Linked DNA regions of Homo sapiens. The protein of the gene in region 2 interacts with the protein of the main gene of each other region in a pairwise test. Each region holds a gene or a part of one and is shown on either strand. Other genes may lie near its edges. The genes, in order: SEC24C and MIA3.

Region 1 (16,626 bases), on a different chromosome or scaffold from region 2:
TCTGCATTCCAGACAGCTGCGTAGCCACCTGTGCACTTGTCGGGGGAGGGCCATAGGGCTGAAGCACAGGTGGCTGGTTGCCCACAGGGGCCAATGGGGACCCAAATGGCTGAGACCCAGGCAGCCTGTGAAAAGAAAGCAAGCAGAGGTGACTAGTGGGGCCAGGACACCCTTTGAAGTCTACAGAAGTGTCACATCATACAGGAAGCTACATTGTTTTGTGACATCTTACTCTCACACCCTGAGTTCTTTTATGGCTTCATACTTTTGTATATTTGTGGGTAAATTATATTCCTGATTATTCATGGCAAATCTTGTTTTCCATTAAGCTCACTCCACAAACATAAACCAAGCACCTTCAGGTCAAGTACTATTTACTCTGCTAACTAAATTACTGCTTCCTCTGCTTCAATTCTTTGACAAACCTCTTCAGTTTTGTAATCTGAAGCCCTGAAAGCACTGAAAGGGAAGGCACGCATAAGCATGCATGAACCTTAATAAATATGAAATCAAACAAATGCAGATTGATTGTCCAGCTTTTTTTTTTTTTTGAGACAGGGTCTCACTCTGCCACCCAGGCTGAAGTGCAGTGGTGTGATCACAGCTCATTGCAGCCTCAACTTTCCAGGCTCAGCTGATCTTCCCACCTCAGCCTCTCAAGTAGCTGAAACGAAAGTCACACGCCACCATGCGTGGCTAGTTTTCGCATTTTTTATAGATACGGAGTCTCGCCATGTTGCCTAGGCTGGTCTCAAACTCCTGAGCTCAACGAATCTGCCCGCCTCAGTCTACCACAGTGTCTTTCCAATATACTTTCCATTCAGTGTCTCCCTCTCTGATTATTCCCATCAGCACAAAAACATACAAACATCTCACACACACACACACACACACAAAAACCAACTATAGTGGAAACATCCCAAATGTCTATCAGCAGAAGAATGGATAAACAAAATGTGGCATGTAGCTACACAATGAAAAACCACTTAACCACAAAAAGGAATGGAGTACTAATATACACTACAACATAGTTGAACTTTGAAAATATTATGCTAAATTAAAGAAGTCAGTTATAAAATATCACATAGTATATGATTCTATTCTAATGAAAAGTCCAGAATAGGGAAATCTTTAGAGACAGAAAGTAGATCAGGAGTTGCTTAAGGTTGGAAGAATAGGGGAATGGGGGAATAGCTAAACAGGGGTAGTTAAAGAATGCAGTATTTCTTCTTCAGATGATGAAAATGTTCTAAAACTGACTGTAGTGATATCTGTCAATATACTAAATTGTGACAGCACATATCTGTCAATATATTAAAAACCACTAAATATACAAAAACACTTTAAACAGACGAATTGCACAGTATATGAATTATATCTCAAAAAACTTTTTAAAAATCCAACCAAATTACCTCACAGCCCCCTCAAACTTTTGCTCCCCTTTTAGCTAAACATTACAAAAGAATAGGTCTATACTCTGTCTCTACTTTTTTTTTTCTTTTCTTTTCTTTTGAGACAGAGTCTCACTCTGTCGCCCAGGCTGGAGTGCAGTGGTGCGATCTTGGCCCATCACAACCTCCACCTCCTGGGTTCAAGCAATTCTCCTGCCTTAGCCTCCCGAGTAGCTGGGACTACAGGTGCCCACCATCATGCCTGGCTAATTTTTGTATTTTTAGTAGAGACGGGGTTTCACTATGTTGGCCGGGCTGGTCTCGGAACTCCTGACCTCGTGATTCGCCCGCCTCAACCTCCCAAAGTGCTGGGATTACAGGCGTGAGCCACCGTGCCCAGCCTTACGTTTTTTTTTTTTTTTTTTTTTTTTTTTTGAGACAGGGTCTCGCTCTGTCACCCAGGCTGGAGTACAATGGCACTCACTATCTGTGGCTCACTGCAGCCTTGACCTCCTGGGCTCAAGCAATCCTCCCCCTAAGCCTCCCCTCCCAAGTATCTGAGACCACAGGCACACACCACCACACCTAGCTAATTTTTTTTATTTTTTGTAGAGACAGGGTCTTGCTATGCTGCCCAGGATAGTCTTGAACTCCTACCCCGGCTTCACAAAGTGCTGGGATTACAAACATGAGCACTGTGCCTGGCCCAACTCTAATCAAAGTGCCTTTCTCCGATAATCCCTTCCAGCCCGGACTGAGGTGTGGTTGTTCTACATTTGTTTCCAGAAGGTACTCCAATAATGACAGTGTCACCCTAGATTGATTTTTTTTTTTTTTTAGTTTTTGAGACAGGGTCTCACTCTGGCACCCAGGCCACAGTGCAGCGAAGCCATCATGGCTCACTGTAGCCTCAACCTCCAGGGCTCTAGCAATCCTCCTGCCTCCACCTCTGCTTCCCAGGCACACCAACAATGCTCAGCTATTTTTTTTTTTTTATAGCGACAGGATCTCCCTATGTTGCCCAGGCTGGTCTAAAACTTCTGGCCTCAAGTGATCCTCCTGTCTCAGCCTCCCAAGGTGTTGAGATTACTACAGGCATGAGCCACTGCACCTGGCCTCTAATTTAAAAAAAAAAAAAATTAGGCCAGGTGCAGTGGCTCATGCCTGTAATCCCAGTACTTTGGGAGGCCGAGACAGATGGATCATTTGAGGTCAGGAGTTCAAGACCAGCCTGACCAACATGGTGAAACTCCATCTCTACTAAAAAAATACAAAAATTAGCCCAGGCGTGGTAGTGCACACCTGTAATCCCAGCTACTCAAGAGGTTCAGACAGGAGATTCACTTGAACCTGGGAGGTGGAGGTTGCAGTGAGCCAAGGTCACACCACTTCACTCCAGCCTGGGTGACAGAGCGAGACTTCATCTCAAAAAAAAAAAAAAAAAAAAAAAAAAAAATTGGCCAGGAACAGTGACTCACACCTGTAATCCCAGAACTTTGGGAGGCCAACACAGGTGAATCACTTGAGGTCAGTTCAAGACCAGCCTGGCCAACATGGTGAAACCCTGTCTCTACTAAAAATACAAAAAATTAGCCTGGCATGGTGGTCATGCCTGGAATCCCAGCTACTTGGGAGGCTGAGGCAGGAGAATCACTTGAACCCAGGAGGCAGAGGCTGCAGTGAGCTGAGATCGTGCTATTGCACTCCAACCTGGGCAATAAGACCAAAACTCTGTCTCAAAAAAAAAAAAATATTACTGAGATGTAATTTCCATACCATTAAATTCACTTCAAGTGAACAATTCAATGATTTTTAGTAAATTTAGTTATGCAACCATCACCAGAATCAAATTTTAAAACATTTTCATCATTCCAAAAAGATGTCATGTCCATTTGCAGTCCCAAGAACTTTTTTTTTCACCCATCCACAGCCAGCCTGAGAGAAACAGCACTCCTTATCTCCCCTTTCCAGCGTGCAGACTTTTTTCCCCTAGTCAGCTTGTTCAATGAAGGTGCAGCCCAGGTCCAGACTTTATAAACAATGTCTCAGTTCCAAAACTACTCTCAGGAAAGCCCAAGGACTCATCTGCCTTCCCCAGTACCTGCTTAAATTTAAGGCCCTGGCTTCTCAAGATGATGAATCCACCCAATCTACAGGCAGCTCCAGAGTCAATTTACCACTCTGATTTTCAGTCCTCACTTGATGGCCAGGCACAGTGGCCCATGCCTGTAATCCCACCACTTTGGGAGGCCAAGGTGGGCGGTTCACCTGAGGCGAGGAGTTTGAGACCAGCCTGGCCAACACGGTGAAACCTCATCTCTACTAAAAATACAAAAATTAGCCGGGCATGGTGGCCCACATCTGTAGTCCCAGCTACTTGGGAGGCTGAGGCAGGGGAATCGCTTGAACCTGGGAGGTAGAGGTTGCAGTGAGCAGAGATCGTGCCACTGCACTCCAGCCTGGGCGACAGAGCAAGACTCTGTATTTAAAAAAAAAAAAAGATTTTCAGTCCTCACTTGGTCTCTAAAACTTAAGAATTTCACATTTTCTTTCAAGCTTAACTTTGCACTTAAAAATTTTTTTTGTTTCTATTTTCTCTCTCCTTTCTAGACTTTGGTAGCAGAGGGTTTTCAGATTATGTCAATCTACCACCCGGTTGAAACTTTTTTTTTTTCCTGAGACGGAGTCTCGCTGTCTGTCGCCCAGGCTGGAGTGCAGTGGCAAGATCTCGGCTCACTGCAAGCTCTGCCTCCTGGGTTCACGCCATTCTCCTGCCTCAGCCCCCCAAGTAGCTGTGACTATAGGAGCCTGCCACCGCGCCCAGCTAATTTTTTGTATTTTTAGTAGAGACGGGGTTTCACCGTGTTAGCCAGGATGGTCTCGATCTCCTGACCTTGTAATCCACCCGCCTCGGCCTCCCAAAGTGCTGGAATTACAGGCATGAGCCACCGCGCCTGGCCTGAAACTCTGACTCACTCCAACTGGGTAGTTTTCTTTATCTCTACACTGAAACTGCCTTTACCAATGACGCCAACCTTGCCAAATTCAATGGTCAATTCTCCATCTTCATCTTACAATTTGGCAGCATCTGACACAACTGATTACTCTCTCACCTTCTTGAAATACTCTCTTCACCTGACTTCAGGACACCACACTCTCCCGGCTTATCTCCCACCTCACTACTGCTCTTTCTCATTGTCTTTTGTTTTTTTTTTGTTTGTTTGAGATGGGGTCTTACTCTGTCATTCAGGTTGGAGTGCAGCGGTGCGATTTCGGCTCACTGCAACCTCCGCCTCTTGGTTTCAAGCCATCCTCCCACCTCAGCCTCCCAAGAAGCTGGGACCACAGGCATGTGCCACCACACCCGGCTAATTTTAGTATTTTGGTAGAGACAGGGTTTCACCATGTTGCCCAGGCTTGTCTCGAACTCCTGAGCTCAAGCAATCTGCCTGCCTCAGCCTCCCAAAGTGCTGGGATTACAGGAGTGAGGCACTGCACCTGGCCCCTCATTGTCTTTTAATGGCGGCTCCTCTTTACTTTTAAATGTTGCTAAGCTCCAAGTCTCAGTCCTCAATTCCATTCTTTAATCTCAATACTCACTTTTTAAATGATTTCATCTAGTCCCACGGCTTTAAATATCTATAGACTGAGGACTCCCAAATTTTTATCTCCAGTCCTAGCATCAGTCTTGAGCTGCAGATTTGTATATGCACCTGCCTACCTAACATCTCTACTTGAATAGAGTTTATATGAGGGACTTGAGCCTTTGTGGATTTTGGTATCTGTTGGTCAGGGGAGGTCCTGGAACCATTCCCCCATGGATACTGAGGAATGACTGTAGTGAGATTTGGGATACATCTTGAAGGTGGAATCAATAGAATTGGATGTGGGTTATACGGCATCATATTTGCATATAACCTCCCATATACTTTTTTTTTCCTGAGACGAAGTCTCACTCTGTCGCCCAGGATGGAGTGCAGTGGCACAATCTTGGCTCACTGCAACCTCTGCCTCCTGGGTTCAAGCGATTCTCCTGCCTCAGCCTCCCAAGTAGCTGAGATTATAGGTGCCCGCCACCACACCCAGCTAATTTTTGTATTTTTAGTAGAGATGGGGTTTCACCATGTTAGCCAGGCTGGTCTCAAACTCCTTACCTCAGGTGATCCACCCACCTTGGCCTCCCAAAGTGCTGGAATTACAGGTATAAGCCACCACACCCAGCCTCCTCCCATGTACTTTAAATCATCTCTAGATTACTTATAATACCTAATACAATGTAAATCAGGGGTGTCCAATCTTTTGGCTTCCCTGGGCTATACTGGAAGAAGTGTCTTGGGCCACACATAAAATACACTAACACTACACTAATGACAGGTAATGAACTTAAAAAAAAAAACCTCATAATGTTTTAAGGAAGTTTATGAATTTGTGTTGGACCACATTCAAAGCCGTCCTGGGGCACGCAGACTGTGGGCCACAAGTTGGACAAGTGTGATGTAAATGTTATGTAAAGAGTCCAAACTGTGGGAAATTCTTTGGGTTAACTGTTTTCTTCAACAGATAAATACTAAGAAAAAGAAGACAGAGGTGGAGCTTATAGACTTAAGACACACCAAGTGTTTTTCCTGTGGGTAAAACTAAATTGTGGTACGTGGGGTTGTACATTTGAGTGTAAACTTTTTCTTTGTGAGACACAGTCTCGCTGTTTCTCAAGCTCTGGAGTGCAGTGGCGAGATCACACTCAGTGTAGCCTCGACCTTTTGGGCCCAAACGATACCTCCACTTCAGCCTCCCAAAGTAGCTAGGACAACAAGCTTGCCACCATGCCCAGCTAACATTTTATTTTTTGTAGAGATTGGGGTCTCCCTATATTGCACAGGCTGGTCTCAAAAATCTGGGCTGAAGCAATCTTCTCACCTTGGCCTCCCAAAGTGCTGGGATTATAGGCATGAGCCACCTCACCCAGCCAAGTGTAAACTATTTTTAAAAAACCACAAGAAAGTCAGCTGGGCGTGGTGGCTCACACCTGTAATCCCAGCACTTTGGAAGGCTGAGGCGGGTGGATCACTTGAGGTCAGGAGTTCGAGACCAGCCTGTCCAACATGGCGAAACCCTGTCTCTACTAAAAATATAAAAAAATTAGCCATGCCTGATGGCAGGCGCCTGCAATCCCAGCTACTCGGGAGGCTGAGGCTGGAGAATCGCCTGAACCCAGGAGCTGGAGAGTGTAGTGAACCGAGATCACACCACTGCATTCTAGCATGGGCAACAGGGCAGGACTCTGTCTCAAAAAAAAAGAAAAAGAAAGTAATTACTGTAAGAGTCAGGATAATGCAGGATAGTTGTTATTTATGAGGGGAGGGAGAGAATAATGTTTGAATTGGGGCACATGGAAAAGGCTTTTGGGGTGAGTGGCAAAGTTCTATTTCTTCATCTGGGTCGTAGTTGTAGTTACAAAGGAGTTTGCTATATAATAATTTACTAAGGCATATGCTTGTTTCGTATGGGTTTTTTGTTTTGTTTTGTTTTTTTGTGACAGGGTCTTGCTTTGTCACCTAGACTGGAGTGCAGCAGTACAATCATGGCTCACTGCAGCCTTCAACTTGTGAGCTCAAGCAATCCTCCCACCTCAGCCTCCCCAAGTGCTGGTATTAAAGGAGTCAGCCACTGCACCCAGCACGGACCAATGTATTTAAAACAGCTCCCTACCCCCTCACTATATCCTCACCCTGTTTTATAACTTTATGTACATTTGTGTACTTGTTATCTTCTATGTACCCCACTTGTTTGACTTACCCAGGCTTACATTCAATGCTTAAAATGTGTGTTCTGGACACCCAGTTAAAGTGTCAGAAAGTGACTTTTCTATTATCATACCCCTTTCCCACAGTTATATTTTACTCTTTATTTACCAAACACAAACAACACTCCTGACCAGGTGCAGTGGCTCACTCCTGTAATCCTAGCACTTTGGGAGGCCAAGGTGGGCAGATTGCTTGAGCTCAGGAGTTTTGAGATCAGCCTGGGCAACACAGCGAAACCCCATCTCTACTAAAAATACAAAAAATTAGCTGGGTGTGGTGGCGCATGCCTGTAGTCCCAGCTACCTGGGAAACTGAGGTGGGAGGGTCACCTGAGCCTGAGACATCCAGGCTCCAGGGAGTTGTGATCCTGCCACTGCACTCTAGCTTGGGCCACGGAGTGAGACCCTGTCTCAAAAAAAAAAATTAAAAAATTTTAAAAAGCACTCTAATAGAGATGACTGCCCTCCTTTAATGGACTTTCATGCTAAGATGGGTTTATTGGGTCACTGTACCACTGAAGTTTTCACCATTTATGTGGTTTCCCTTTTAGTATCTTTCAGTTCATAACTGGCCATGCCCAAACTTAACCAATCAGTCCTACTAAGTGCCTGTTCTAGAGGAAAGGGGCAAGTCAAAAGAGATGCAAATAATCCTGAAGTTTCCTCTTCCCATTTCTCCCTTAGGGTAGTCTCAACAGGACTGCAACCATTATTGAAGATGTATGTCTAGTAAAGCAAGAAACTCAAGTTCACAGAAAATGAAGAATATGCAAAGGAACCCAGGTACTAAGATGGGTCAATAATCCACAGGGCTGGACGTCAGCAGTACCTGTAACCTGGAAAAAAGAAGACAAAGTACAAAAGGGTAGAGGGAAGAGAAAAAGTGATCTACAAGAAAGGCAAAGGAGAGAAAAAAAACAAAACAAAACACAAACCCCCATACATTCCTAACCTTTCTACTTTCATCAGATCAATTTTATTTATTTATTTATTTATTTATTTATGAGACGGAGTCTCACTCTATCGCCCAGGCTGGAGTGCAATGGCACGATCTCGGCTCACGGCAACCTCTGCCTCATGATTCTTCTGCCTCAGCCTCCCAAGTCTGGGATTTCAAGTGCACACCACCACACCTGGCTAATTTTTTATTTGAGAAAAGAGATGGGGTTTTGCCATGTTGGCCAGGCTGGTCTCAAACTCCTGACCTCAGGTGATCCACCCACCTCAGCCTCCCAAAGTGCTGGGATTACAGGCATGAGCCACTGCACTCAGCCTCATCAGACCAATTTTAGATTGACCAAGTACCTACCTTTGCATCTGAACAGTGGAGCTTGGCCCATTCTGTACATCTCCTTGGCCAAACTGGCCATATGCAGCCTGGCCACAAGGAGCCTGTGCTGTTGAGGCTGGAGGTGCCCCCGAGGAAGGTGGGGCTCTTGACATACCTGAGGGTAAAGGACAGAAACTAAGTGATTGGGAAATAACTTTCTCCTCCACCCTGAGCCAGGAATGCAAAGCAAGGATCAATAAACTCAGACCTTCACTGGCCCAATACCACAGTTTAGGCAGTGAAAAGGACACTACCAGCATACAACTGTAGCTACAGCAGTATTCTAAACACAGATTCCCAACAAGGGGCCTACACTCCCCTAGACAAGCATACTAGGGGTGAAGCTGTAGCCAGAGGCACAAGAATGTAGGGCCTTCCTTTGATCACCATACTCTCAGTCAATCCAAGACTGCCTGATATTCTTACCCTAGACAACAAGCCAACCCTTTTAAGGAAAAGATCTTACTCCAGAACTCAGAAACTTGGAGCATATATGAAAAAGGAGACTCAGAAGATGACCAAGTAATATACGGAACTAGGCTGCAAAGAAAGGCATCTCTTGGGGAGATTATTCTGCCACCTTCTTCTTCATTCATTCTGCTTACACTAACTATATCCTTTCATCCACTTCTAAGTGTGAAAACATGAAACAGCACGATTCAGGAACGTGTTCCTATAGATCGGAGACCTTGTTTCTGCCCAACAGTTCAGTAAGGACAGCTGGCCTGTCCTCCCATCAGCATTGCCACCTATGTCCTCACAAAAGCTGTACTCCATCCTTCCTATTCCTTAGAACCACCACCAAAGCTACTTACACTACCCTTAGCCATTCTTCACATATGAAGTTCAGGGAGAAAGCAATTAGTTACTTGGCACATCACTTTTGAAATGTGGATGACCTCTGTTCAAAGAATGCTTTTCTTTTGCTCTGCCCTCAGTAGAGATTAGACATTATAGAACCTGCCTACAGGAACATGATTAGCCTAAACTTGCTCACCAACCATGACAGAATCAGATATGTTTTCCTCTAACAAAGCTTTCTCATGAGAGAATGCCAAACTCGAGCACTTGACAAAGCAGAGGTGGACTCTGTCCAGCCAAAGTCTCAGCTTAGAATTAAGGTTCTTCCAAAGACCTGGGGCCTAATCTCATCACAATATTTTTTCCCCACAGTTAAAATCATCATACTTCATTATTTCCCAAATCTTACCAGTACCTCCTTGATGCCTTCTTTTTTCCATATCTCTTTATGAAAGCATAGAGTTTGGCATACCCTAAATCATCGGCTAGCCTAAGCAAAGATCTACTGTTAACTATTTCCAAAAAGCCCCTCTGGAGAATCGGTAGAGTACTAGCTGCTCTTCTTGAGAAAGTAAGGTAAGGCTGGACGTGGTGGCTCACGCCTGTAATCCCAGCACTTTGGGAGGCCAAGGCAGGTGGATCACGAAGTCAGGAGTTCGAGACCAGCCTGGCCAACATGGTGAAACCCTGTCTCTACTAAAAATATAAAAATTAGCCGGGCGTGGTGGCATGTGCCTGTAATCCCAGCTATTCGGGAGGCTGAGACAGGAGAACTGCTTGAACCCGGGAGACAGAGGTTACAATGAGCCAAGATCGTGCCACTGCACTCCAGCCTGGGTGACAGAGTAAGACTCTGTCTCCAAAAAGAAAAAAAAAAAAAAAGAAAAAGAAAAGGTAAGGTTAAAAGCCAAACACTGAACCTAGAACAGCATCAGATTAGTATTATCTTATTACCATGACATTACAGAGCATCTAAGAAGCAGAGGAAACTCAAGCAAAGGAAAAGGATGGATATCAGAAGACATGAGACGCACCAAAAGTCAGGCACACAAATATCACACTTTTCACCCCCATAAACTACACTGTCCCAGGGTCATTCATACATAAGAATCATCAGTCCAACAAGAGGCTTTCTCAACATATATGACGAATAAATTATTTCAAGGAGACTACAAGTCAACAGGAAATATTCGGTCCTGGTCACAGGATCTAGAGGGGTGTGGACCACAACCCTTCCATTTAGCTCTGAACAATGTGACCAGGTAAGGCTGCACAAGGTGATACCCACAGGAAGTGAACAGTCAGTGAACCTGGGAGATGTGTTCCCACTAGATGGCTTAAGGCAGAAACACAGTACCTTATCTAAAAACAGGGAAGACAGCTGGGCGTGGTGGCTTACGTTTGTAATCCTAGCACTTTGAGAGGCCGAGGCAAGTGGATCACCTGAGGTCAGGAGTTCGAGACCAGCCTGGCCAACATGGCAAAATCCCATCTCTACTAAAAATACAAAAAATTAGCCAGGTGTGGTGGTGGGTGCCTGTATCCCAGCTACTCAGGAGGCTGAGGCACGAGAATCACTTGAACCTGGGAGGCAGAGGTTGCAGTGAGCTGAGATTGTGCCATTGCACTCCAGCCTGGGTAACAAGAGCCAAACTCCAGCTCAAAAATAAAAAAGAAAAAAAATAAGGCCAGGTACGGTGGCTCACACCTGTAATCCCAGCATTTGGGAGGCTGAGGCGGGTGGATCACCTGAGGCCAGGAGTTTGAGACCAGCCTGGCCAACATGGTGAAACCCCATCTCTAATAAAAATACAAAACATTAGCCGGGTGTGGTGGCACATGCCTGTAATCCCAGCTACTTGGGAGGCTGAGGCAGGAGAATCACTTGAACCTGGGAGGCGGAGGTTACAGTAAGCTGAGATTGTGCCATTGCACTCCAGCCTGGGTAACAAGAGCAAAATTCCATCTCAAAAAATATTAAAAATAAGGCCAGAGGTGGTGGCTCATGCCTGTAATGTCAGCACTTTGGGAAGCCGAGATGGGTGAATCATTTGAGGTCAGGAGTTCGAGACCAGCCTGGCCAACATGGTGTAACACTGTCTCTACTAAAAATACAAAAAATGCCGGGCATGGTGGCGGGAGCCTGTAATCACAGCTACTCTGGAGGCTGAGGCAGGAGAATTGCTTGAATCTGGGAGGCGGAGGTTGCAGTGAGCCGAGATTGTGCCACTGCACTCCAGCCTGGGCAACAGAGCGAGACTGTCTCAAAAAATAAATAAATAAATAAATAATAAAATAAGTAAAATAAAATAAAAAAACAGGGAAGGGGCCGGGCGTGGTGGCTGAAGCCTGTAATCCCAGCATTTTGGGAGGCCAAGGCTGGTGGATCATTTGAGGTCAGCAGTTCTTCAAGACCTTCCTGGCCACTGGTAAAACCCCATCTCTACTAAAAATACAAACAGTGGCCAGGTGTGGTGGCTCACGCCTGTAATCTCAGCATTTTGGGAGTCCGAGGTGGGTGGATCACTTGAGGTTGGGAGTTCAAGACCAGCCTGACCAACATGGAGAAACCCCATCTCTACTAAAGATACAAAATTAGCAGGGTATGGTGGTGCATGCCTGTAATCCCAGTTATTCGGGAGGCTGAGGCAGGAGAATCACTTGAACCCAGGAGATGGAGGTTGTGGTGAGCCGAGATCGTGCCACTGCACTACAGCCTGGGCAACAAGAGTAAAACTCTGTCTCAAAAAAAAAAAAAAAAAAAAATACAGGCCAGGCACGGTAGCTCACGCCTATAATCCCAGCACTTTGGGAGGCTGAGGCGGGCAGATCACAAGGTCAGGAGTTCAAGACCAGCCTGGCCAAGATGGTGAAACCCCCATCTCTACTAAAAAGACAAAAAAATTAGCTGGTGTGGTGGTGGATGCCTGTAATCCTAGCTACTCAGGAGGCTGAGGCAGAGAACTGCTTGAACCTGGAAGGTGGAGGTTGCAGCCAAGAGGGTGCCACTGCACTCCAGCCTGGGCGACAGAGAGAGACTCTATCTCAAAATAAATTAAAAAAATACAAAAATTAGCTGGACGTGGTGGTGCATGCCTGTAATCCCAGCTACTGGGGAGGCTGAGGCAGGAGAAGTGCTTAAGCCCAGGAGGCAGAGGTTGCAATGAGTTGAGATCATGCCACTGTAATCCAGCATGAGTGACAGAGCAAAACTGTCTCAAAAAAAAATTAAAATAATAATAAAAAAAGGGAAGGGAAGGGCGCCCACGGGGCTCTCAGCTACACAGGGCCAGATTTATGTTCCTCAATCCCAGTTATCCAAACTTCTCAGGTAGCTTAGCTAGAGCAATACAACCCAACCTGAAGACTCTGCTGATTTCCCTCCCTAGCTCAAAGGAAACAGAAACAGAAACATACCTTGGGGAGGTGTTTGCTGATAGCCTGGTACTGGGCCATTGTAGGCTCCATAGGGAATGGCGGGGGCTGTGGACCCTGATTGCCCACCATAGCTGGACTGATGATACCCTGGGTAGATGGGCTGGGGCTGCCCAAATGGTGGCACAGGTGGAACTGACTGGTTGACGTTCATTATGAAAGCATTCCCAATTTGATCTCACCTGTGAGAGAGAGGAGAAATTAGTCAAAATGAACTTTCTAAAGAGAGCAACTATTCAGGGCAGGAAGTAGAGATAAAAAGAAATTGACCTTATCAGACAGTGATCAGTTTAATAATCCTCACACTTCCACAGGATCTTAGTAATTTTCTGCCCCAGCCAGCATTCAGATTATCTCCTAAAAGCAAGGATTTTGTTATTCTGACCATCCACCCTTTGTCACTGTCTAAATAGTATAAATTTCAACTTCAGACAGATCCACTGAAATGGAGCAGCAGCCTCCATTCCCCAGTGGTATGATTTCTAGTGTCTAGTCACACAGTCTTGTGGCTGATGAACTACCTTGATGTTACAGGTGAAAGAAACAATGTTCCCACTTTCCATTCATTCACTCTAGCATCCATTCATTCAGCAAACATCGAGTACCCTCTAGTGTGCTGAACAATTGATTTAAAATCAATCAGGCTAAAAATCTAAAACAGATCTGCTAAAATCCTTCCCCCTCAATGACAAAATTTAGGCTGAGTTACAGAAATGACATTCTTTAGCTAAACTGCCATAATACAAATGATACTCCAACCCAAGTCTTTCCACCAAAAGAGTGTATGGACCTTAAAACTGAAGGTTTTTTTTTTTTTTTTTTTTTTTTGAGACGGAGTCTCACTCTGTTGCCAGGCTGGAGTGCAGTGGCGCGATCTCGGCTCACTGCAACCTTCACCTCCTGGGTTCAAACGATTCTCCTGCCTCAGCCTCCCGAGTAGCTGGGATTACAGGCGCGTGCCACCACACCCAGCTAGTTTTTGTATTTTTAGTAGAGACAGGTTTTCACCCTGTTAGCCAGGCTGGTCTCGATCTCCTGACCTCGTGATCCACCCACCTTGGCCTCCCAAAGTGCTGGGATCACAGGTGTGAGCCACCACGCCCGGCCAAAACCGAAGCATTAAAATCAATAAAAGTTGGCCAGGCACAGTGGCTCATGCCTGTAATCCCAGCACTTTGGAAGGCCAAGTCGGGCAGATCACTTGAGGTCAGGAGTTCATGACCAGCCTGGCCAACACGGTGAAACCCAGTCTCTACTAAAAATACAAAAACTAGCCGGGCATGGTGGCACACGCCTGTAATCCCAGCTACTTGGGAGGCTGAGGCAGGAGAAATCGCTTGAACCCGGGAGGCGGAGATTGCAATAAGCCGAGATCGTGCCACTGCACTCCAGCCTGAGCAATAGAGCAAGACGCCCTTTCAAAAAAATAAAAAATAAAGGACACCTGAAAACTCTAGCAAGGTAACAGATTAAAACCAAGTGCAGAACAGGCACCAAAACTTCTTCACATAATCTGAGGAAACAGTTCAAGAATCAGGGGCAAAGTTAGAGTTAGATTTCATGGAAAAAAATCATTCACCTCATCCCTCAAGCAGAAGACTATGAATATTCTAAATTCCAATGCACTTCTCCAACTCTCCTGTTTCTGCTCCCCTTACGATTGTTATGAATCTCAGCCACCATCAAAATTATTACAATCTTGCTCATCAACACAGGGATGAATTAGAGGGCCTTTTCTAAACAGGGTCCTTCCAAGAAAACTATCTCATCACATCTACTTTCAACAGCTGTATCATTCCAATTATCCTGTAGACAGAAGGGGCCCAGAAAGCAGGAGCACTCAGAGTTGCTGCAAAGGGAACAATGGACCTCTCCCCCTTTGCTAGAAGGGCCACCTTGACTATAGAAAAGGAGCTGATCCTGGTCTAAAACTCTTTAAACTCAAAGTTATCTCAATAGCTGTTCTTCCAAACCCTAAACCTTACAGAGGTAGGTCACTGACACTAAGTTTAAAATATGTCCTCTCCCTTTATGTTTCCAAAGCCGGGGGGAGGGGTAAAGAAAGGAGCTTCTTCTCCAGAAAATAATCCCCTCAAACACATTCAAGAGCTTGGAGTCAGACTGAAGTCTCGACTCCATTCTGGGTGGATAGTCGAGGGTGACAACCCAAGGGGGCGGGGCAAGCTTCCTAGAACTCTGAAAGTAGTCAAGCCATGGAGCCTCGGAGAGCCGAGGATCAAAACCGAGAAGCCAAGTCGGCTTCTAGGGCCACGTTAAGAGAGGGGGCTGCTCTGTTAAGCACAGAGACCAAACGTCTTGCACCTTTTAACAGGCTCGGGGCAGGAAGCAGGAGCCGGAATCTGGGCCGGGAGACGAAGGGATGGTCTAGGACCTGCTCCTGGATGGTGGATGCGTGAGGTGAGGGTCTCTACCCAGGCCCCGCCCCCAGGCTCCTCCCTTCTTTCTGAAACCGGACCCCAATCTGGCCAGTAATACCCTGACCTCTCCTTTGCTTTCCTACCCGCCAACCTCCCGATGCCACTCCTCACCCGGCTCCAGATCCAGGTTAGACTTCGTTCCTAACGTCAAGGCTCCCAGGCTCCACTTCCGGTTCCGAGGGGGCCGTCCCGTCACCCCCGGAAGTTCCTCCTCCACGCTTTAGGGCCGGGCCACTTCTTCTGCCACGTCTGCATTTCGGGGACCCGGATGCCGCGCATGCGCCTCTTTCATCTTCCCATCATGGCCGCCGCCTGTGCGCCTCTGCTGAGTCGTATGTATTTCCCTCCTGACATTTTTTTTCAGATGTTCCAGTCACTTTATGGCCTCACCAACAGAAATGAGATTAAAAAGAATTTGTCAAACTATCTTTAATAATGCCCCTTCACTCTGCCTGTGACGTATTAGTGACCTCTGAGCTAGAGTCTTGTAGTCACTTCCTGGTGACCCCTGACCCCGTTGATTTCCGTCCGCTAGGTTGCTCTCACCCATGGCGTTTGCTGGTTATGAGATTTGCGGAACGTGTGGTGGTGGTAAAGGGCACCAACTGTTGTCAACCTGCATGTGGGGGTCTGAGGTCTGGCTCTACAGCTTGTAAAATGGAAATAATAATGCCCAGAGGATGAAATTAGGCCACATAGGCCGCTTGGCATCATAGTAAGCACTCAGTAAAGGTCAATTGTTATTAACCATTTTTATACAGCGCCTTTGTTTAGGTGCAGAGCTTTATCAGAGCCAAAAGATCTCTGCGCTCTGTTGGAAAAGATAGTTCCTGCAGTAATTATTAGTACCCCATTTAATGGCTAAGTAATTATAGCTAACAGTGCTAGGATTTCTTTTTCATATATGACTTCATTTGAACTTTTCAGTACTATTTGTTGATTTCATAATTTTTCGAGCACTGCTGTTGAAACTGCCTTTGCAAAATTACAACTGAGGAAATTATGATAGTGGAAGAAATCAGACTTAACCGACTCCATCTTGCTTCTAACCTTTAAGCTGTCCTTATTCATTCCTGGGTGTAGGTGGAACTAACTTTGGGGAGGAATTCAGTTTATGGTTTGAAACAAAATTGATAATAGCCCCTTCCCGAAAAGACCCCCTTCTTGCCTGGGGACCAGTCTGTCTTTACAGGACTAACAAATTAGCTACAAGATTACAAATTACAGTTTAGGGGACATGCAGCCTCTCGCTCCAAGAGTCTGAACCTCCCCAAATTGCTTTTAGGAATAACATAACTATTGTAAAACCTAAGATTAGTGCTTGAGATGTTTTGCAGACCCTGCACTCATTGGATCAGCTGACTACCTAGACCAGTAACCTGGCTCAATCAGTTCTGCCATTCCACCCAGGAACAGAAAACAGCAAGA
Region 2 (16,626 bases):
GGAGTAGGGAGAAGATCATTAATTTGGGGCAGATTGACCTTAAATGTTGATGTAGTACCAATTTATTACATGTGACCAGTGTCCCTGTGCTAATGATTTAGTCAGTACATTAAATATTTATTTAAGTAGATAATTTGAGAACTAGAAATATAAATCAGCACGCCTGCATTTTCTGTTTCTCTTTGCAAATGACATATTTGAAGTGATGCCATTTTCTGAGAAGAAAGATGCTTCATGCAGGGAGGAATATTGAGCTATAACATTTTACTGTATTTCCCATCTTGGAAATAAATTAAACTCTCATTGAAATAAAGGTTCTTATTATATTTTTCTTAAATTCTAACCGTATTTTTACATCCTTATTCTTGTTAGCAGATTGCTTTTTGTATTAATCTGTTCTCACACTGCTATAAAGAAATACCCAAGGCCTGGTGTGGTGGCTCATGCCTGTAATCCCAACACTTTGGGAGGCCAAAGCGGAGGATTGCTTGAGCTCAGGAGTTCGAGACCAGCCTGGGCAACATGGAGAAACCCCATCTCTATAAAAAAAATATAAAAGTTAGCTGGGTGTGGTGGCACACACCTGTAGTCCCAGCTACTCAGGAGGCTGAGGCAGGAGGATTGCTTGAGCTTGGGAGGCGGACTTTGCAGTGAGCTGAGATTGCACCACTAAACTCCAGCCTGGACAACAGAGCAAGACCCTGTCTCAAAAAAAGAAATACCTGATACTGGGTAATTTATAAGAAGTTTAATTAGCTCATGTTTCTGCAGGCTATAGGAAGTATAGCGGCATCTGCTTCTGAGGAGGCCTCAGGGAGCTTTTACTCACAGCAGAAGGCAAAGCGAGAGCAGGCCATCTTACATGGTGGGAGCAGGAGCAAGAGAGAGTGAGCGGGGAGGTGCTGCACACTTTTAAAACCAGATTCCACAAGAACTCAGTCACCATCACAGAATAGCACCACAGGGATGGTGATAAACCACTCATGAGAAATCTACCCTTATGATCCAATCACCTTCCACCAGGCCCCACCTGAACACTGGGTACTATAATTTGTTATGAGATTTGATGGAGACACAGAACCAAACCATATCACTTTTTAAAACCATAATAGTTATGCTGAGAAGTTATTTTTTGTCATAGTGCAAGATAACATGTCTTTGCTGCTGATACATTGGGTAATTCAATTTCATTTAGTGATCATAATAACCTTATTATTTTTTTCTTTTTTCAGTCACGGAACAGCAAATTTCTGAGAAGTTGAAGACTATCATGAAAGAAAATACAGAACTTGTACAAAAATTGTCAAATTATGAACAGAAGGTATGATTATTCTTTGTTTTTTTTTTTTTTCATGGTCCCAGCTTGAATTATTTGTCACCTATCTTATAGTTCAGTTACTATGGTATTTTTAAATAGTATTTATTATTACATTAATTCCTATAAACCATCCAGATCTTAAGCAGTCATATGTGTAAAGTACTGTTTTCTTCTGTAAGAGGTCAGTCACTTGAAAATAAGTTCTGGTAGCACTATACTTTATATTTCTGGATTCTGAATGCTTTATTTTATATAGATCAAGGAATCAAAGAAACATGTTCAGGAAACCAGGAAACAAAATATGATTCTCTCTGATGAAGCAATTAAATATAAGGTAAAAACTTCTTTTGGGGATTACATTTTAAAACAAAAGTAAAAGTAATGAGTATAACTAACCTTAATATCTTTTTTGTAGGATAAAATCAAGACACTTGAAAAAAATCAGGAAATTCTGGATGACACAGCTAAAAATCTTCGTGTTATGCTAGAATCTGAGAGAGAACAGAATGTCAAGAATCAGGACTTGGTAAGAGTTTTGCTGCTAAGTATTACTAATAATTTGGGTTTTGAACTCTTTTGTAGATTGAGTTGAACTCTTTATTTTCCATGCTGTTATGTGAAGTAAGAGTGCGAGTCAGGGAAGTTGAACCTACTTCTGTCCATTTTTGTGGAATTTTAAGTACTTACACAAGAAATTATTCTTACAGGCCTAGGAAGTATTTTGGTTCTCAACCCTAGGTAATTGTCATATTGCTTGGCTCTGCCCTCCGAAACATGTGGAACAACTAAGAAACCCAGTTGAACAGTCCTTGTGTTTTGTTTTGTTTTGCAAAGTTTTTTTTTTTTTTTGCTATAAACATTTTATTTTATTAATAGAATAGTTTTAGAATGACCTAAAAGTTGCAAAGATAGTAGAGAGGGTTCCATAAATCCCACACCCTATTAATCTTGATGACCTCGTTGAGGTAGTATTGCCAGGTTTCTTCACTGTAAAATTACTTTTTTTTTTTTTAAACTTTTTGCATTATTGTACTCTTTGGAAGGAAGTTACTATCGCAGCCCACAGTTAAAAAGTGAAGGGTTATGCTCCATCCTCTTGAGGAGCCAGAATCTTCATAAATTATCTAGAATTCTATATGGGTGATCTGTCTATTCTCACTCCAATCCTACCATTTTTAATTTAGGCAAGAGCAATTGGTGTTTGACAAAACAATTGTCAAATTGTACTAAATTAAAGTACCTTGGGGATTATTTTTTTCTCTTGCCACAAGAAAAAAAAAAGTCACATTGATTTGAACTGGTTTACTTAAAAGTTTTTTCAGTTTCTTTTCTTTCACCTTTTAGTCTGGTCATCTACCACATTTTATTCTAACCAGGAAGGTTGTGTATGCTGTGAAATATTTATGCCTTTGATTATTTTCCCTTACCTCTTTAAGTTCTTGATTTTTCCCGAGGGCAAAACTGAAACACCTGCTTTTACCTGAAACATAGGGGATGGCTCTGGGACATACTTTGTTGATGTTTCTTCTTCTTAGTATGTATCCCAGTGTTTCTACTAAAATCCTAATATGCATTTTGTGTTCTGTTTTTACATGGCAGATATCAGAAAACAAGAAATCTATAGAGAAGTTAAAGGATGTTATTTCAATGAATGCCTCAGAATTTTCAGAGGTAAAGCTGACTGTAATTCCTGCAGGATATTAATACTATATCATAGTTTGATTGCAGAGCAAAAATTTGATATATGCTAAAATGTGCAAAAAATGAAAACTACATGATGTTGGGTTGGAAAAGTAACTTTTTCTGGTTTTCTTTGGAATTAATTCACTAATAGGAGTGTTTTGCATTAGGTTCAGATTGCACTTAATGAAGCTAAGCTTAGTGAAGAGAAGGTGAAGTCTGAATGCCATCGGGTTCAAGAAGAAAATGCTAGGCTTAAGAAGAAAAAAGAGCAGGTAAAGGAAAGTGCGTGTCCCAGGTCATGTAAAATAGAGAACTCAGTATCATACCTCATGAATGCCTTTACTCAGATCTATTTTTAGGGTAATATATGTGCAGGATTCTGTTCTTAGATATGCAAAGTTTAAACTATGCTTCCAAAATTGAGTGTAGGTATACATTCTCTATCTGTTCTGGATTTTCTGTTCTGTACAATTTATTTTGGCTATCAGAGTGTGTAGTCTTGTTTTGTCAGACACCAATTGCTATTAACTTGAGTAGCCTCGAGTGGGTAGTAGATTGGCTTTTTAGACCCAAGAGTTAGATATTTTATAACCCTCCTTTGAGTAGTTACTGCTTCACTAGCCAAGGGAAGGTTACATGATCAGGAGTGTGGACTTGGGAGATAGTAGGATGAGCCCTTCTGTTCCTTCTGGAAGTGAATTATTTGAATTGGCTACAATTTTCTGAAGGATGCAATAAACAAGATCAATTTCCTTGATAGCTCTGATGTTCTCACTACAGCTCTGAGGGTTGGGGCCACTGTCTCCTCCCACTTAACCAAGGTCTTAGCCCATAGTGATAGGCCAAGGAGAGGCATGGTTCCTTATTTACCTGTCTCATTCATGTGGTCCTAATGTCTCCAGTGCAAAAGCCCTAACCTGTGGGAATCATGTGTTTTAACTTTGCAGTTGCAGCAGGAAATCGAAGACTGGAGTAAATTACATGCTGAGCTCAGTGAGCAAATCAAATCATTTGAGAAGTCTCAGAAAGATTTGGAAGTAGCTCTTACTCACAAGGATGATAATATTAATGTAAGTGCGTTCATGAATACAAGCTTAATTCTTGTGAATTATCAAATCTGTTGAATTAAATGGAAAGACTCTTAATGCCCTTTTACTTCTTTTCTAGGCTTTGACTAACTGCATTACACAGTTGAATCTGTTAGAGTGTGAATCTGAATCTGAGGGTCAAAATAAAGGTGGAAATGATTCAGATGAATTAGCAAATGGAGAAGTGGGAGGTAAGATCAGCCTCAAGGAGGATGGACCCCTTTTGCCTTCCTGTCTTTAAGTGCACCAGTGCTACTTTTCAGCTGGCTGCATTTCCTCTTAAGCTTTCGAGGTGTAAATACATTGGATTTGAATGTGTGTCTGTTTGCATTGGGCAGAGGTGGATTGCTAGGGTGAGGTGTAGCAGTAAGCATGCAGTGAACACTGACTTTGTTTTCACATTGAGACTAGAAGGGTGCACGGGAGCTGCACTGGTCATGTCTTACACCTCTAAGTATTGGACACATACAGTAGTAGAAACTTGTTTTTCAATTTCATGGAGATAACATTTTAAAACTTGTCATCTCAGTAGCTGTGTGGTTTTAAGGCCCACAACTGGTTTTAAGAGTACTGAGGTGGTTGGAGGCATAAACTGACTAAGGCCATGAAAGAAAACCACAACTGGTTTTGAGAGTACTGAGGTGGTTGGATCCATAAACTAAGGCCATGAGAGTGGAGGCTATAGTGTTGCAGTGTTTACTGATGAGGAAAATGTTTCTAGATGCCCTCTCTCAAGTTGGATATTGCTTGTGTAGTGGGTGTTTTAAACCACACCTGGTAGTAGATTCTGGAGGAGAATAGGAGGGAATCTTTCTGAATAAGACACTAAGCCCAGATGGAAGAAAGAGCTTTATCTCACATGTTTCTTCTTGCTCAATAATGGCATGTATAACATGTTTATTGTACAAATGGGAATTCACTTTTTCAGTCTTAAGTTTGCAGTTCTCTTAAAAGTCAGTCTAATCCTTTTCTGTTTTTGTTTGTTCTTTAAATGTTTGAACATGACAATTGTTTAGTTTTGGGTAAATCAAGAAAATATAGATTTAAAAAGCAAGGGAAGAAAAAGCAATGAAAGAAAGCCTTTTGTTTTTTAGGTGACCGGAATGAGAAGATGAAAAATCAAATTAAGCAGATGATGGATGTCTCTCGGGTATAATCGTTTTTAGAGTCCCATAATTGCCTGTGAATACTTTTACTATGCCTCACTTTTATGAATACTTGTCTCTTCTGCAATTTTTAGACACAGACTGCAATATCGGTAGTTGAAGAGGATCTAAAGCTTTTACAGCTTAAGCTAAGAGCCTCCGTGTCCACTAAATGTAACCTGGAAGGTAGGTTGCTTCTTGAGAAGAAATTGCTATATATTGGAAAGATACAAAATTGCATTAGAAAGATAAAGAGCGGCTTCCTGCTTTCATACTTCTCATTTCTCTCAGCACCAGCCCCCAACCAAGTTCTCAAGTTCTTGTGCACACATATGGAACTCAAATGTTTTATCCTTTACAGACCAGGTAAAGAAATTGGAAGATGACCGCAACTCACTACAAGCTGCCAAAGCTGGACTGGAAGATGAATGCAAAACCTTGAGGCAGAAAGTGGAGATTCTGAATGAGCTCTATCAGCAGAAGGAGATGGCTTTGCAAAAGTAAGATTATCATCATTTACTGTTAACTGTATTGTCATGTCAGTAAATAAATGTGTACTAATATAGATAATGTTATCGTTTTTCAGGATTGTACTCTTTTGCATCTGTAATTAGTATAAATTTGTCTTTCTTTCTTTCTGCTTTGTTTCTCATAAGCTGCATTTTTCTTTCCTTTCTAACCAGTAGTCAAAAACTGTTGCCTGTAACTCACTTAAGGGGGAGCAGTGTACTGGTACTGACGGTCGCTGCTGTGGGAGTGCTTCTCTTTTGAAGATCTGGCCATGCCTTGTCTGTGGCTCCGCCACTTGTTTCACTTTCCTTTCTTTGTGGTCAATTATGTAATTTCCTTTAAACAGTCTGAGGGATTTGTATGACGTGTTTTAGTAGAATAAAAACTTCAAAAAAGGAAAATTTACTTATTGAAGGTACATTTAGTTTTGGACTTCACAGAGTAAAATATTCAAACTAAACATAATTGTGGCAAAGATATTAGGAGTTTTGAATGTAGAACTATTTGGTGTGTATATTTAGATAATAATCCTCTGAAATACATATCTCAAATTTCGAGCGAGGTACCTTTTGAGAGGTATATTTTTATAGTTCAAGTTTTTTGTCCACAAAAACATCTGAATTCTCTAAAAATAGGTTATCTGTGGCAGTTGCTATTTGTGTTTGCTCTTATGTTTTACTCTTTGGTGTATATGGCAGTGTGTGAGGAGGCCTCTCTTGCTAAGCAAATTTAACTTTTTTAAATGCTTAGACTGCTACTGCTGTATGCCATTAAATATTGAAACCATACCATTAACTTTTTCTCTAATTCTTTGCTCACCAGGCAGCCAGTTTAGATTTTCCAGGTTTTGTTCAGGCCAGCTCTAAATAAATGCCTGTCCTGCTTCAGAGAGACATTCCTCATTTCATTACTTTTTAAAAAAGAGCACTTCTCTGCCTCCAATAGTAATGTGAATTACGTAAATGGCAACTGTTTTTCTTCGTGATACAGTTAACCCATTGATGTGGCAGTGTTTTATTCAACTTCCCCAAAATTCATTCAGTCTCCATGTGTGGTTTGTACTCTACTGTCCACCCCTAAAGTCACTGTGTTAATTCAGGCCCTTGTCATCTTTTATGCCAGTCCCCTAGCTAATCACGTATCTCCAGACTTTCTTTCCCTTTTTTTTTTTTTTTTTTTTTTTTGAGACAGAGTCTCACTCTGCCGCCCAGGCTGGAGTGCAGTGGCGTGGTCTCAGCTTACTGCAAGCTCCGCCTCCCAGGTTCATGCCATTCTCCTGCCTCAGTCTCCCGAGTAGCTGGGACTACAGGCGCCCGCCACCATGCCCGGCTAATTTTTTTTGTATTTTTAGTAGAGATGGGGTTTCACCTGTGTTAGCCAGGATGGTCTCAATCTCCTGACCTCGTGATCCACCCGCCTCGGCCTCCCAAAGTGCTGGGATTACAGGTGTGAGCCACCGCGCCCGGCCAAAGAATATACTTTAATGCAGGTTCAGTGAGTTTACTTTTGTATGAAAATGTCTTTAGTTTGACTCCATTTTAAAAGGATCTTTCTGCTGGTTCTGGAATTTCGATAGTTGTTTAGTATCAGCACTTTAAAGATAACCAGTTATCCTCTAGTTTTAAAGTTTCTTTGAGGAATCTATTATCATTCTTATTTTCTCTTTTCTCTTTTTTCAAATGTTTTATGCCTGCCCTAGCTGCCTTTCGTCATTTTCTTTTTGGTTTTTCAGCAGTTTTCTTGGGAGGTGCCTACATGTAGGGTTTTGTCATCACCCTTCCACCCTACCCTCCTGCTTTTTCTTTTGCATTTATACTGCTTGAGGTTATAAACATCTCTTGAGTTTGGAGCCTCTTTTTTCACATATTAATTCTATCTTATTCTCACTTGTCCTGAGAATCCAATTCAACATACTAGGATCTCCCACCCCTACCCCTCGCCCAATGCCTCCTACATTCTGAATATGCTTCATTCTGGATGTTTTCTTCTGACCTATCTTCCAATGTGCTAAAAATCTCACCTCAGTTGTCTAATCTGCTAAAATCATTGAGTTCTTTTTGGTTTCACTATTTTTCACTTTTATAGTTTCTAATCCTCTGCTGAAATGTGTAATCTTGACTTGTACTTCCTTCAATTTGTAAGGCACAATTGCTTTAAAATCTATGTGGTAATCCTATTATGTGGATCCCTTATGAGTGTGTTTCTCTGGTCTTCTAGATTGTGATTACATTGTCTTGTCTTGTGGAATGTCTGGTTGGTTTTGATGGAGTGGTGAACATTGTTTTTGAAAATTGTAGGGGAAATTTGAGGTCTAAGATGATGTTATCATCCTACATAAAAGATATGAGATTACCTCTAGCAGGTGGTCATTACTTTATTCCAGTTAGCAATTAAAATCATTCAAAAATGGCTTAGTTCCTTTAAAGGACATTGTATTTATTGCCTGTTCAATACTCCAAGTGTGCAGCTCTTTTCTGGTCTCAACCCAAAGCCTAGGGCTTTTACTAGGGGTCCTTCTCATTGGCAGCCCTGAACTCCCTCCGCTTCTTGTTTCTCTCAACCCAGGGATCTGTTGAAAGTTCTTTTCAACCTTCTTACATATCTGCATTGTCTTCAATGCATGGATGAACCTGGGGGGAAATGGCTTAAAATGCCGGGCTTACTTATAATTCTGTGTTTTTTCCTACTGGATTTTCTTCACTGCCTTATTAGCTTTCTGATGCCTTCGAGCACATTCTTTCTATTTTTGTCCATATGTTCTTATTTTCAGTGTTTGCAGACTAACTCATCCATTATTGGAAACAAAATTCTCTTGAATCCTTCTTCAAGACTTGTTTTTTCCACATCCCTTCCTAAGCCAGAGTCAGAGAGGGATTGTTCTGTTCTTATATGCACCTTTTACACATTCAGCTGTGAGCTCCATTAGTGCAGAGGTGGTACTTACCATAGCCATACCTTTATCTTAGTCTCTTACAAGGTAATTAGTATAACCACTCATAAAATATTTGCTGAAGTATTTATTGAATGAGCAGTTGTAAAAGAATACATAAACTTTTTTCTCTTTGGTGTTAATAACCCTTTTTACTATAGCTCCTCTATTTTTGTTTCCAATTTATAGAAAATTTGCAAGTATCTTTTGCATCAGAACTATGAGTAAAGAAGTACAAGGGTAACTACAAGTAGCACTTTTAAACCATTAAATGTTGCTGCCTTTACAATCTGTGTTATAGTTGGCTAACCTCTTGAGCTTGAAGGTTATCAGGTTAAAACCAATTTCCAGTACATAGCACCCTGATTACAGGACAGTTTGGATTCTTTTTCTGTTCAACAGACATTGCCAGTACTCGGATTTGTCTCGCTGCTTTATCATGATTCCATTGAAATAGGTAGGGGAGCTCCATATCTGAAGTGTGAAAATGTTCTGGGGTTAATTGTACAGTTAAGGACATGTTCTAAAAAGCTCTTTCATTGGCTGTCTTTATCATGGTACCAGCCTTGGATTGAGAAACAGCCCATAAGAAAATTAATTAGTGGTCTTTCCATGGTTAGAAATAAGAGAATTATCTCCTGCATCATCCTAATAAGCTTAACTGTGTTAGGTTGATCAGTCCTGGCTTTCTACATTGAAGAAAAGTGAGCATCATTTCAACCCAACAGTCTTTGACACATAGTGTTTTTTCACATTTGTTTCATTTACTAGTGAGGAGAGAATTATGAGACGTTAGAAAATGCAGGTGATGTATCAACAGGCCACAGTTGGATTTTTATCCTAAAGGACAGTTTTATTTCCTTCCTGTGACTTTGTATAATCTATGCATTTTTAAGAATAGGATAGGAAGTGAGATTTTATTGGAGTATTCAGACAGAATGCCAGGAGGAAAAGAGAAACACTTTCATTGACAACCAGTTTTATCTTAGGAAACTGAGTCAAGAAGAGTATGAACGGCAAGAAAGAGAGCACAGGCTGTCAGCTGCAGATGAAAAGGCAGTTTCGGCTGCAGAGGAAGTAAAAACTTACAAGTAAGTTCACCTCCTAAAGAGGGTATCAGTGGCTAATGAAACTAGTGTTGGCTTTTTTTATTAGCACAAAAGCATAAATAAGTGGTTAGAGGACATGAATACATCAATTCACACAAAAGAAAAACTAAATTTTAAGTTAACAAATGGAAAAATATTAACAAATACCCAGTGCTGGCAAAACTGTAAGGGAACTTGATTCGTGCAAACAGTTCTGGGGGTTGGAGGGGGTGGGAGCAGTTTGTTATATGATGTATCAAAAGCCATTAAAGTGATTTTGCCATTTGATAGACCCAGTAGTCCTAACTTTGGGAAAATTTTTATGATGTAATTAAAGGATGAAAAAAGGTTTATAGTGGAAGATATTAATAATAGGATTATTTGAGAACATATTTAGGAACAGTTAAAGGAATTGTAATATATCAACTCAATCTCCAGCTGTTAAAGGAAATTATGTATCATTAGTTTTCATCATATTGTACTTTTGTTATAACCAACCATGTAAAATATGCTTTATATTTCTGGATAAGCTCTATTAGGGTACAGTTGTTAGGGTAACGGTTAACATAGTCAGATTGTTTGGGTTTTTATTCAGTTGTGCTTTAAATGATAAAGCCAAGTGTAATTCTTAGGCGGAGAATTGAAGAAATGGAGGATGAATTACAGAAGACAGAGCGGTCATTTAAAAACCAGGTAATAATTCTAGTGCCCTACTATATAGTGCCCGGAATTCTTTGATAACTAATAGAGGCTATTATAATGAATCTGTATGCATATTTTGTGATGTATTATCTTTTTCAGATCGCTACCCATGAGAAGAAAGCTCATGAAAACTGGGTAAGATTTCTTTTTTTCTTTCCCTTATTTTGTGCATAGTCTCCCACAACTGAATTTGGATATTTTTCTTCAATAGCTCAAAGCTCGTGCTGCAGAAAGAGCTATAGCTGAAGAGAAAAGGGAAGCTGCCAATTTGAGACACAAGTATGTGGATTTTGATGGCTATATTTTCAGCGCGTGTTCTCTTAAGGAATTGGTTTCTATTTCATATTTAACTCTTTCTTAAATATTCTTTCTCTATATTCAAGATTATTAGAATTAACACAAAAGATGGCAATGCTGCAAGAAGAACCTGTGATTGTAAAACCAATGCCAGGAAAACCAAATACACAAAACCCTCCACGGAGAGGTAAGGGAGCTACCTTGTAAAGGGCAACAATCTGTTTTTTGATGTAAAATGTATATAAGTGACTTTTTGTTTCTGTGTGTAATGGTTATGGTACCCTAGGAATAATCCCAAGAACTGAATAAAGAAAAAAAGGCTGTCTTAAAATGCTAACAAGATGCTGTCATCTTTAGGTCCTCTGAGCCAGAATGGCTCTTTTGGCCCATCCCCTGTGAGTGGTGGAGAATGCTCCCCTCCATTGACAGTGGAGCCACCCGTGAGACCTCTCTCTGCTACTCTCAATCGAAGAGATATGCCTAGAAGTGAATTTGGTGAGCATTCACATGTTTCCTTGCAATACTCTTTTGGGTGGCTTTTTCCCTTTTATTTGAGAATTCTAATGCAAACACTTTAGAATTCGGGTCTGTCCAGTATAGAAAAGAAAATTTCTTAATTTGTCTTGGTGGATTCAACTGCAAGTATTCAACTGCAAGATTTGCTTTAGAACAGAAGGCATTTATTATTTTCCTTTATTGTTTTGTTTCTCTTTAATTTTTTACTCTGAAGTGTAAGCCCTTATCTTTCAATTAAAGTTCTGTGGGATTCCTCTCCCAAATACAGCTGACCCTTGAACAACACAAGTTTGGTCTGTGCAGGTCCACTTCTATGCAGATTTTTTTCAAAAAATATTTTGGGAAATTTTTTGGAGCTTTGCAATAATTTGAAAGAACTTGCAGATGAACCACATAGCCTAGAAATATAAAAAAATTAAGAAAAATTTATGTATGTCGTGAATGCATAAAATATATGTAGATACTAGTTTGTGTTATAAACTATTGGAAAATATACAAAGATCTATTTTAAAAAGTTAAAATTTATCAAAACTTGCACAAGCACAGATGTACATGACACCATTCACAATTGGGAAAAAGTAAACACATGTAAAGATGCAGTTTTAAATCATAAATGCATAAGATTAGCTGTAGTACATACTGTAGTACTACAATAATTTCATAACCACCTCCTGTTGCTATTGCAGTGAGCTCAAGTGTTGTGAGTATCCGCTTAAAACACCGTGTGATGTTAATCTGCATGTGGGCAGTTCATCTCTCCAGTAAATTGTGTATCACAGTAAACATAATCTCTCATGGTTCTTGTGTATTTTTCATGTTTAGTGCAATAACATAAACCTTGAATAACACCATGGGACCCATATAAAATGCCACTAGTGATGCTGGAAGTATTCTCAAGAAGCAAAGTCATGACACTACTAGAAAAAGTTGAATTGCTTTGATATATACCATAGTTTGGAGTGTGCAGCAGCAGTCATTTCAGTCAGACGATTCATCTTGTAAACAGACCATGTACACGTACAGTACAAATACAATACAGTGTTATAAATACATTTCCTCTTCCTTATGATTTCAATAACATTTTCTTTAGCTTACTTTATTAAAGAATACAGTATACAATATATATACAGAATATGTGTTAACTGTTTATGTTATTGGTAAGGCTTCTGGTCAATAGTAGGCTATTTACTAGTAGGTAGGTTTTGGGGAGTCAAAAGTTACACGTGGATTTTTGACTGCGCAGGGGATCAGCACACCTAACCCCTGCATTGTTCGAGTCAACTGTATTATAAAAGTAGCCTTAATAACTTTATCGTTTATGCGGCATACATGTTTCCACTTGTCATTACTATATAGTATGAAACGCTGTTGAGTCTATTTTGAATCCTAAATATGTCTATAATACTCAGTAAGATACGGAAGTCAGATTACATATACACTGAACAAAAATCACCATGTAGAATACTGTACATGTAAGTCTGTAGCTTGAAGTATAGAACCAGAGCCATTAATGTGCAGGGTTTATTGTTCTTTCAGTGCAAGGCAGTTCTTATTTTAATTCTTTAAGTCCGTGCATAAATTGTAAGTGATTTCCCTTCATAAATATTGGGAGACCCATTTTTAATGTTGCTTTCCAGATAAGACTTGAACCCTGATCTGTCCACAATTTATTATTTCTTCCAAAAAATACATATAAGGACTCTGTTATTTCTTTCTCAAGGATCAGTGGACGGGCCTCTACCTCATCCTCGATGGTCAGCTGAGGCATCTGGGAAACCCTCTCCTTCTGGTAAGGGAGCAAGAGTGTTCAAAGAGTCTAAAACCATGCAGGAAGTGGGGAGAGGATTTTTTTTTTAATCCTCCTCACAGAGTACACAAGTCAGAATAAGTCTACATCAGTTCTCTGGTCTTTAACAGATCCAGGATCTGGTACAGCTACCATGATGAACAGCAGCTCAAGAGGCTCTTCCCCTACCAGGGTACTCGATGAAGGCAAGGTAAATGCACCCATTTTGAATAATTAGTTATTTCAGGAACATTTAGCTCTTCCTACAACTCTCTCTTTGCCTCATCTCCTATTTGTGTGTTCTATCTGTACTATCTCATTTATTTTTTAAAAAAGCAAACTGTTCTCCAAGAGCCTGAAGTCCCCTCAGTTCCCAGCATTACATCTTTGGCTGAGCGTCCAGTAGCAGTAAGTACTTAGAAGTGTGGACTGAACTGGGCTATAAGTTGCATGGCAATATTGATCTTACTTTTATCCTTGACTTGGGAGTGTTGCTGAAATCTGACGGATTCATTGGCCTTTTCTCCTCTCTCCTGTTTGGTTAGACATTTAACCTGTGTAGAGCATCTGCTGTAACTGTAATTAACTTAAACAAAAGTGAAAAGTCCCCACTCTTGTGTGTCTCAGTGTTTAATGCTCTTAGGCAAAGTAAATTCATTGTAAATTGTGTAATTCATTATTATGTCTTCATTTGGAAGTGTGCTATTTAAGAATACCTACAGTTGTATACTAGGCAAACCCTATTTTGAATGATCTGAAATTACAGATTGATAACAGAAGAATGTTTGCTGGAAGTGAAATACTGAATAGTGGAAGTCTATAATTACCCGTTGAGCCAGTTCCCAGCAGTGTCCTTAAACAGTGTCCACATAAGTGTATTCTCTTGTAACTTGTATAGCTGTTATGGCTGGTAAGTCCTCTGATCATACCTCACTGTGATTCTCGACATTGAAATTAAAATAATTTTAATGATTGAGAGTTTCCAACCCACTTTCCCATAGGAAGTGATTAATCAGTATCTCATAGTAGACAGTATTACTAGTGAATGAAGATGAATAGAGCTGTGCCTGTATAATTTGTGTACATAACATTGTTTCTCTTGGAAAATACTTCCAAGTTCCAGCACAGGACTCCAGGAATACACATTTCTTGAGAAATGTTTTTATCCAAGAGCAGCTTGGATAAGACCCGAGACCCCTTTGAAGTAGGAGACTTCGAAGAGTGTAGAGACTACTTTGTTAGAAAGGAGAAGCAGAGGTGGAAAGAACGTGGCCTTGGAGTCAAACCTGGCATGGAATTCCAGCCAGCCTCTTACATGCTGTGTGACCATCAGCAAATCTAATACTCTCTGCGCCTGTGTTCCTGCATATTTAGAACAAGATGGTCCTATTACAGATTTAGAGATGTCAGAATTTGTGTTAATATATGTAGGGCCTACAGAAGGTACTCTGAATAATCGCTGTTACATGGTAGAGAATGGATTTTTCATTCCCTTTCATTCTCTGCATTCTTAATATGGAAATTACTCTGATAGGAGGGATGTGCAGAGGGAGTGACTGCCTTAGAAATAGATGTATGAATGGCGTAACTTCTATCATTAGTCAGGAATGACCTCCATTTATAACCTGTGCGTTCCCTTCCATTTGCAGATGTAAGCAATAATATGATACAGCAAGTGTTCACTCCTGTGGCATACTTTTAACCTTTCTAAGCTTGTCAGTGGGAACAAATGAGAGGGGTAGAGTTTTTTGCACTAATTCTGCTCTTTGGACAAGTGCCTGACATCTGCTTCATTGGGTTTTAGTTTTTACTGGTGTTGGTGCTTTTGTCTGTCATACCATAGTATTTCAAAACTTCAATTGTTTCTACTCTGCAGGTTAATATGGCTCCAAAAGGGCCCCCTCCTTTCCCAGGAGTCCCTCTCATGAGCACCCCCATGGGAGGCCCTGTACCACCACCCATTCGATATGGACCACCACCTCAGCTCTGCGGACCTTTTGGGCCTCGGCCACTTCCTCCACCCTTTGGTAAGATGATCTGAACAGTAGTAATTGACTTGTAAAGCACATTCATCTTCTCCATCTATCCCTTGCTAAAACAACTGCAATTGCGGGGCTTTGCAATGCAGCAGTGAAGCTGATTGAGTACACCGTAACTTTTCCCCAAGTTTCTTCAGACACAAAGGGTGCTACATAATCTCCTGTGATTAGATGGGCAATAGTTGTCTCTAATAGAACAAGGAAAGGGGCTATTTATAAAAAGCCAGAAATATTCATCACATTGAACATCTGTGGCTGTGTACTAGGCTCTGCAATGGATAGCAAGGTAGATAAAATACATCCCCTAACTAAGATGTCCTGTAGGTCACAAATATACACATTCTACAACATAAAGCTTCTAATCACCCATAATGGAAGCATAAGCAGTAGGTCACAGAATATTAAGGAAAGACAAAACCCTCAACCCTCACCTTGGGAATACAAAGAAGGGAGATATGAAAGAGAAGGTAGAATTTAACAGCTATCTAATGAATGCTGCTGAATTTAATTAGATGGAGCTGGAAAGCCTTTTCCAGCAGGGCAAGCACCTTAATTTTTATGGCATTTATTAGGTACATCTTGAGCTACTGCATAAATTTTTAACTGATACACAGTAGTTAATGGAATTTATCAAAATTTTTATTGCAATGAAGCCATATTTAGTCTGTCTTCTTGGTATGGTATATAGTACTTCCAAGTACAAATCTATCTCTCTTTTTCAGATAAAGATGGCAGGCCAGGCACAGTGGCTCACGCCTGTAATCCCAGCACTTTATGAATCCCAGCATTCATTAGACGAGGCTGAGGCAGGTGGATCCCTTGAGCCTAGGAGTTTGAGACCAGCCTGGGCAACATGGTGAAACCCCCATCTCTACAAAAAATCCAAAAATTAGCTGGGAGTGGTGGCGTGCACCTGTAGTCCCAGCTACTGGGGAGTCTGAGGTGGGAGGATTGATTGAGTCCGGGAGATTGAGGCTGCAGTGAGCCATGATCACTCATTACACTCCAGCCCATGTGACAGGCAAGACCCTGCCGCCAAAAAAAAAAAAAAAAAAAAAAAAGGATGACAGACTATATTAACATACCTGGCATTATCTTAATTTAAATACGTTCCTAGGAATTTACTGGAAATAATTTTTGTTTTCCAGGCCCTGGTATGCGTCCACCACTAGGCTTAAGAGAATTTGCACCAGGCGTTCCACCAGGAAGACGGGACCTGCCTCTCCACCCTCGGGGATTTTTACCTGGACACGCACCATTTAGACCTTTAGGTTCACTTGGCCCAAGAGAGTACTTTATTCCTGGTACCCGATTACCACCCCCAACCCATGGTCCCCAGGAATACCCACCACCACCTGCTGTAAGAGACTTACTGCCGTCAGGCTCTAGAGATGAGCCTCCACCTGCCTCTCAGAGCACTAGCCAGGACTGTTCACAGGCTTTAAAACAGAGCCCATAAAACTATGACCTCTGAGGTTTCATTGGAAAGAAAGTGTACTGTGCATTATCCATTACAGTAAAGGAT

The links.
Region 1: the proteins of MIA3 (region 2) and SEC24C interact in a two-hybrid assay, tested with the Homo sapiens proteins (one study listed by BioGRID).

What each region holds. Positions count from the first base shown.
Region 1 is NC_000010.11:73,743,121-73,759,746, reverse strand, and holds the start of SEC24C (protein transport protein Sec24C), read right to left. Parts: upstream 15,376-16,626; 5' UTR 15,310-15,375; exon of another isoform or gene 15,282-15,309; intron 14,567-15,281; exon of another isoform or gene 14,340-14,566; intron 13,118-14,339; exon of another isoform or gene 13,031-13,117; intron 12,943-13,030; 5' UTR 12,915-12,942; coding exon 12,743-12,914; intron 8,640-12,742; coding exon 8,504-8,639; intron 8,031-8,503; coding exon of another isoform or gene 8,024-8,030; intron 126-8,023; coding exon 1-125. UniProt on the Homo sapiens protein: Component of the coat protein complex II (COPII) which promotes the formation of transport vesicles from the endoplasmic reticulum (ER).
Region 2 is NC_000001.11:222,649,060-222,665,685, forward strand, and holds part of MIA3 (transport and Golgi organization protein 1 homolog isoform 1 precursor), read left to right. Parts: intron 1-1,232; coding exon 1,233-1,321; intron 1,322-1,574; coding exon 1,575-1,652; intron 1,653-1,733; coding exon 1,734-1,844; intron 1,845-2,917; coding exon 2,918-2,989; intron 2,990-3,168; coding exon 3,169-3,273; intron 3,274-3,948; coding exon 3,949-4,071; intron 4,072-4,168; coding exon 4,169-4,280; intron 4,281-5,183; coding exon 5,184-5,239; intron 5,240-5,329; coding exon 5,330-5,420; intron 5,421-5,595; coding exon 5,596-5,734; intron 5,735-8,862; coding exon of another isoform or gene 8,863-8,917; exon of another isoform or gene 8,918-9,662; coding exon 9,663-9,764; intron 9,765-10,393; coding exon 10,394-10,454; intron 10,455-10,562; coding exon 10,563-10,598; intron 10,599-10,674; coding exon 10,675-10,742; intron 10,743-10,846; coding exon 10,847-10,947; intron 10,948-11,117; coding exon 11,118-11,255; intron 11,256-12,996; coding exon 12,997-13,065; intron 13,066-13,193; coding exon 13,194-13,273; intron 13,274-13,398; coding exon of another isoform or gene 13,399-13,470; and 5 more.